2 linked regions of the Homo sapiens genome follow. The protein of the gene in region 1 purifies or fractionates together with the protein of each later gene. This does not show direct contact. Each region holds a gene or a part of one and is shown in the gene's direction. Other genes may lie near its edges.

Region 1 (3,761 bases):
TGGTTTTCAGAAAGATGACAATATGTAGTTAGTTTAATTAGGTTGTCCAGCTGGGAAAAGACAGTTTAGAGTTTACAAAATAAAATGCAATATTAGTAGATGTATATTATAGTAAATCTAAAGTAATAATTTTTTCTTACTAAAGAGACATCATTCACATGATTTAAATAAAAATATGCCAAAGGAAAAAGAATATATTTAATTACCTTTAAAAACGCTAATACATACATCCAAGGTTGTTAAGACTGATCACTCTGTGAATAGTATAAAAAGGTGGCTGAAACATTAACTACAGAATAATGATAAAAACAACCATAACATCTTTCCCCTTTATTGTAGTGGGGCAAGGACACCATATCAAGCTTGAAGTACCTTTAATGTTCAAATTGTATACATTCTGCCTGGTTTATAGAGGAATAATTTCTGTAAAATTTAAAATTCTAAAAAAAGGTCAGATGCAGTGGCTCACGCCTGAAATCTCAACACTTTGGGAGGTCAAGGCAGGCGGATCATGAGGTCAGGAGTTCGAGGCCAGCCTGGCCAACATGGTGAAACCCTGTCTCTACTAAAATACAAAAATTATCCGGGCGTGGTGGTGTGCACCTGTAATCCCAGCTACTCAGGAGGCTGAGGCAGGAGAATTGCTTGAACCTGGGAGGTGGAGGTTGTAGTAAGCCGAGATCGCACCATTGCACTCCAGCCAAGGCAAAAGAGTAAGACACTGTCTCAACAACAAAAATCTAAAACAAAGTCTTTAAATTTTGGTTAATATTGTATGACATTCTTTCTCTTTGGGAATGAATATATTGGCAGGTTACTTAACCTATGTAAGCTTCAGTCAGGCACAGTGCCTCAAGCCTGTAATCCTAGCACTTTGGGAGGCTGAGGCAGGGAGATCACTTGAGCTCGGGAGTTCAAGACCAGCCTGGCCAACATGGCATAACTCTGTTTCTATAAAAAATACAAAAATTAGCCAGGCATGGCGGTGCATGCCTGTAGTCCCAGTTGTTTGGGAAGTTGAGGTGAGAGAAAGCTTGAGCCCAGGAGGTCAAGGCCGCAGTGAGCCATGATCGTACCACTGCACTCCAGCCTGGGTGACAGGGTGAGACCCTGTCTCAAACAACAAAAAAATTATCTGTGTAAGCCTCAATTTCCTCAACTACAAGATAGGGGAAATAATCAATGAGGATTAAGTGAGAGCATACAGTATTCATGCAGAACATGAGAACAACACTTGAATTTATTCACTCTAGCAATCATTGTCTGCTTACATAATAGCCTACAAAGGATAATCAATGTATTTATTACCATTATTTAGTCTACTGAAGAAACATGCAGAACTTGAGAAACCAGGCAGACTACCTTGAACTGAATTCTTAGAAAATTAAATATATTGTATCTTAGCTTTCACGTATGTCATTTCTGTCCAATATGTCTCTTTCAAATGTCACCAGTTACATACAATATCCCCTCTGACCTATGCTGGTGACCTCTACCTATTGTGGAGGAATCTCCACCTATTGTGATGTCATCCAGTACTTTATGGTAATATTTATTTTTTCTGGTTACAGTTTAAAGGGCACTTCTGTTTGTGGAGTAAAGCCTGCCACATTGTCAAAATATGTAACTGGAGGATTACAGTATGCTTACCTCTGATTTTATTTCTACAGTGCTGCTATAAGTAACAATGAGTAAATCTACTAAATTATGTGGTAAGACTTCTTGTCCAAGAAGCAATATATTCTGCAATCTCCTTGACAAAATTGTTAAAAGACCCTCCCTACAGTTTTTGGGTCAGTGGGGATATCACTGTTACGAACCAAGGATTTACAGATCACTGGCAAAAATTCTGAGGTATGTGGACTTGGATGGTTTTGACGCACTACTCACAGATTACATTGCATTTGTGGAAAAATCAGGATACCGTTTTGAAGTAAGTTTTAACCTCGACTTCACTGAAATATGTGTGAATACAATTCTGTACTGGGTTTTTGCCAGAAAAGGTAATCCTGACTTTGTGGAATTGCTTCTCAAGAAGACAAAAGACTATGTTCAAGACAGAAGTTGTAACCTGGCACTGATATGGAGGTAATAATTTCATATGTTTTCACTATAGAACAAGAAAATTTATCTTTACGAGAGTAGAGTGCTTCTTTTTTCTAAAACTCACATGTATAGTGGCTATATGTGAAGTAAGGAATTCTCACCTAATTGCTTGACCACGTGTTCACTCCTTCACTCTTTTATTATGTATTCCATTTTTATTTATATGTAAATTATTATGTACCAATAAATCATTAGTGATTCTGCTCTACACAGCTTACATGTTAGTGCTAAACAACATGTTTCTCTAACTAAACAAAGACACTATGTTGTGTAATACTATGATCTCCTATTTCTGCGAATCCTATGGTTTTATATTTATATATGTTTATAAGCTGACTTTCAAAGTACAATTGGGAACATGCACACATCTTCACATAGTAATACTTATTAAACACAATAGTTCCCTATTTGTGTGTTAAACATTTATAAATTAGACTCCAAATTCTCCAAATTTGAGCACAATGAAGGTCAAGTACCTGATGCTATCGATAATAGAACCAAATTTTTATAGTGTTCACATGTCAATCTACCTAATGCATACTACTGAGGATCTTATGAAAATCAAATCTCCAATGTATCCTCTTTTTAGAGTCCATAATATAGAATTTAAAGTTACCTAGTTTGCACTAACTTTAATTTATTCTTTCGTTTTAGATATTCATCTGAATAAAACATTCATGTGTTCATTCATTCAGCAAAATATTTATTAATCACATTACTATGTATGCAAGTCTGTACTAGGTGCAATATAAATGCATGTATGCAATGAAAAACAAAATGGACAAGATCAGTTAAAGACTAAACCAATTTAGATTCTGCCTAAAGCAGAGTTTTTTCTTGATTGTGCATCCTATGGTATCGGAGAACCACTGGATTTCATTACTTAATGATTACTAAAGTACATGAACTGATAGCTGTAGTTTGGAAACAACAATAAACAAAACTACCAAATGGTACTTTGTGTTTTAAGTAACCATTATATTTGTAACTACAGCAGAGATCAGCAAATCTTCTAAAGCTGACTGTCACTAGCTGGGCTAAATAGTGCCTGTCTACAGCCCTGGAAGGTCCACGGGAAAGAAAAATTGAGGCAAACAGAGGGAGAGAGAATAAATTTTTAAAAATTAAAAATGGAAGCAGAGAGGAGAAAGCTGGACAGAAAATGAAACAAAGAGAAACACAGTGGAACATGATAGGGTGCCATTAACAACTGTCTTAAGACAGGTTTAAAATTAATCAATTTCAACTTAGATGCATCCACAAGGTAAAACCCATTACAGGCCAGTTCTACTGATCGCAACATCACTTAGACCTCTCAGAATCATAGAATTTTATATTTGTATGGAGCCTGAGAATTCATTAGCAGACCTTTACCCTGGACAGCAACTGGTCGATGCTCACTGGTCTCTTCTTAAACAATTCTAGAAGTAGTGAGTTAACTATTTCCTTAGGTAAACCGTTCCTTTGCCTTGGGGTCCTTGTTTTTCCTAGTGTTATATATATATATATATTTATATTTATATTTACATATATTTATATTTATATGTAGTTATATATATACATGTTATATATAGTTATATATGTTTTATATATATAACTAAATATAAATATAACTAGTTATATAAATATATAAATATAACTAGTCATATAATAGT
Region 2 (3,661 bases), on another chromosome or scaffold:
GGAGTTCAAAGGTGCAGTGAGCTCGGATCACACCACTGCACTCCAGCCTGGGTGACAGAGCGAGACCGTGTATGATAAAACAAAAACAGAAAACATCCAGAGGTTTGTATAGAAGTAGTTATCTTGCAGGTGTTCAGAAGGACCTGACTGCCAAAATAAGGCAGGCCCTCATTATTTCAGGTGCAGTCATTTAAGTTTCTTATTGGCTATGGTTTTTTGAAGAAATAATTTTTATAGATTTATAGGATGGTGTTCACAAAGACTACTGTATTTGAATTTTTCTATATATTTTCAATTCTCATACATCCGTATTAGAAATTATGTATTGTATTTATGGTCAGATTTATTGGAGACTGCTGCAAAAAACAAATTACTGGTATGGTACACTCAACCAATCTCAAAACGAATCCAAGGGCACCAGAATATAAGTTGCACAAAGGCAGAAATCTTTGTCTTTTTTTTTTTTCTCATGTGTGCTAAACACCTGGAAGGGTACCTGCATTTAATGGGTGCACCATAAATAATGAATGAAGGCAGGCAGGTAGGCAGACAGGTGGTACAATCAGGATCCCCTTAATATGAATTGGGGGTAGTTTATGTAAAATTTTTCCTTTTTACCTACTTTCTGATCATTATATGAAGTAGATTGGGATCAGACTTACCAATATTAGCTGTGGCCGGGCGCAGTGGCTCATGCCTGTAATCCCAGCACTTTGGGAGGCCAATGCAGGTGGATCACCAGAGGTCAGGAGTTTGAGACCAGCCTGGCCAACATGGTGAAACCCCGTCTCTACTAAAAATACAAAAATTAGCTAGGCATGGTGGTGTGTGCCTGTTGCCCCAGCTGCTTGGGAGGCTCTGAGGCAGGAGAATTGCTTAAACCCGGGAGGCGGAGGTTGCAGTGAGTTGAGCTCGTGCCACTGCACTCAAGCCTGGGTGACAAGAGTGAGACGCTGACTCAAAAAAAAAAAAAAAAAAAAAAAGAATGTTAGCTGTTTGGCTTAATAGGGCAAGACTGCTCTTAGAAATTGAAAGGTTGGGGCTGGGTTTGGTGGCTCACGCCTGTAATCCCAGCACTTTGGGAGACCGAGGCGGGCAGATCACCTAAGGTCAGAGTTCGAGACCAGCCTGGCCAACATGGTGAAACCCTGTCTCTACCAAAAATACAAAATTAGCTGGGCGTGGTGGCGCATGCCTGTAATCTCAGCTACTCTAGAGGCTGAGGCAGGAGAACCGCTTGAACCAGGGAGGCGGAGGTTGCGGTGAGCCGAGATCGTGCCATTGTAATCCAACCTGGGCAACAGGAGCAAAACTCTGTCTCAAAAAAAAAGAAAAGAAAAAGAGAAATTGAAAGGTTGTTTGAAAAATAGGCTTAAGAGAGTTACTGCTTTTGGATGAGAAGATTTCAGTGGTTGATTTGACCATAACCATCTTGGTAGTATGAGCTCAGGAATGCGTTACTTATTAGTGATGTGGGAATTACATGGATTTGTCCCCAAAGCACAAGCTTTTAGTGGGCTGCTTCTATACTGGATGTGCTACCTTTTGGTGTCATTAATCCTTTCTCCACCACAGGCTTACTCATTTTTTAACAGGGAATATTTTTCACTGGGAATTGGAGTCTCTCGGCTCCATGTAAGAAATCAAGTTGGTAAAGGCTCTTGTCCCTAAGAGAGGTATAATACATACATTTTGTTGTCAGGATGATTTTGCTAAGTTTTGGAAGAGTAGGTTGGTTCCACTAACCTGCATTTAAGAAATGATTGATTAGGCTGGGTGCTGTGGCTCACACCTGTATTTCCAACACTTTGGGAGGCTGAGGCAGGAGGATAGCTTGAGCTCAGGAGTTCGAGACCAGCCTGGGCAACTTAGCGAGACCCCATCTCTACAAAAAAAAGCTTTTAAATAAAAAATTAGCTGGGTGCGGTGGTGTACACCTGTAGTCCCAGCTACTCAGGAGGCTGAGATGGGAGGATCACTTGAGCCCAGGAGTTTGAAGCTGCAGTGAGCTATGATTGTACCATCTCACTCCAGCCTGGATGACAGAGTGAGATTCTGTCTTAAACAAAAAACCCCAAAAGACCATCCAGAGTGCTTGTCTCGGTAGCATATATACTAAAATTGGAAGGATATGGAGAAGATTAGTATGGTCCCTGCGCAAGGATGACACGCAAATTTGTGAATTGTTTCATAATTACTATTTAAAAAAAAAAAACCTCTGTAGGTATTTCTCCAAAGAAGCTAAGCAGATGCCCAATAAACATATGGAAAGATGTTCAGCATCACTAATAATTAGGGAAATGCAAATCAAAACCACAGTGAGATGTTACTTTGCGACCATTTAGGATAGTTATAACAACAACAACAAACGACAAAAGCAAGTGATGAGGTTGTAGAGAAATTGGAACCTTGGTGCATTGCTGGTGGGAATGTGAAATGGTGCAGCCACAGTGAGAAACAATAGGGTGGTTTCTCAAAAAATTAAAAATGAAATTACCATATGATCTAGTGATCTCACTTCGAGTTATATCCAGGATAATTTAAATCAAAGATTCAAACAGGGCCAGGCAAGGTGGCTTATGCCCGTAAATCCCAGCACTTTAGGAGGCCAGATTACTTGGGCTCAGGAGTTCAAGACCAGCCTGGGCAACATGGTGAGATCCTGTCTCTACCAAGAAACCCCCCAAAATTAGCTGTACATGTTGGCGCATGCCTGTAGTACCAGCTGCTTGGGAGGCTGAGGTGAGAGGATCACTTGAACCCGGGAAGCGGAGGTTGCAGTGAGCTGATGATCATGCCACTGTACTCCAGCCTGGATGACAGAGCAAGACCCTGTCTCAAAACAAACAACAACAAAAAAGACTCAAACAGCTATTTGTACACCAGCATTCATAGTAGCATTATGCACGATAGCTGAAAGGTGGAAACAACTCACATGTTCATCAGTGGATAAATGGATAAACAAAATGTGGTATACACATAGAATGGAATATTATTCAGCCTTAAAAGGGAGGGAAATTCTAACATGCTACCACATGGATACGCCTTGAAAATAGTTTACTAAGTAAAATGAGTTGGACACAAAAGGACAAATAATGTGTGAGGTACCTATAGTAGACAAAATTAGTGGAATAGTGGTTACTGGGGCCTGGGGGACAGAGTAATGGGGAGTTATTGCTTAATGATCACAGAGTTTTAGTTTGGAAGGATGAAAAAGTTCCAGAGAGGAATAGTGTTGATGGTTGTATAACAGTGTGAATTAATTTAATGCCAATGAATTGTACACTTAAAAATGTTTGAAATGCATGAAAAGACAAATACTATGTGATTTCATTTATATGAATATGAGGCTATCTAAAGTCAAATTCATAGAAACAGAAATAATGGTGATTACCAGGGGCTGGGGAAGAGGGAAATAGGAAGGTGTTTAATGAGTATAAAACAACGCATTACAGTTTTGCAGAATGAAAAGGCTCTGGAGATCTGTTGCACAATGGTGTGATACACTTAACACCTACTGAACTGTACACATTAAAAATGGTTAAGATGGCAAATTTAATGTTATGTTTTAGAAAATGGTTTAAATGGTAAATGTTTTAGATATATTTTCCCCACCGCTCAACAAAACCCAAAAAACTAACACTCGACCCAGTTCTCTAAA

The links.
Region 2: the proteins of ASB17 (region 1) and RAB10 purify together in Homo sapiens (affinity purification with mass spectrometry, with the first as the bait; one large-scale study listed by BioGRID). This does not show direct contact.

Annotation. Positions count from the first base shown.
Region 1 is NC_000001.11:75,930,218-75,933,978, reverse strand, and holds the start of ASB17 (ankyrin repeat and SOCS box protein 17), read left to right. Parts: upstream 1-1,574; 5' UTR 1,575-1,687; coding exon 1,688-2,088; intron 2,089-3,761. UniProt on the Homo sapiens protein: May be a substrate-recognition component of a SCF-like ECS (Elongin-Cullin-SOCS-box protein) E3 ubiquitin-protein ligase complex which mediates the ubiquitination and subsequent proteasomal degradation of target proteins.
Region 2 is NC_000002.12:26,040,584-26,044,244, forward strand, and holds part of RAB10 (ras-related protein Rab-10), read left to right. Parts: intron 1-3,661. UniProt on the Homo sapiens protein: The small GTPases Rab are key regulators of intracellular membrane trafficking, from the formation of transport vesicles to their fusion with membranes.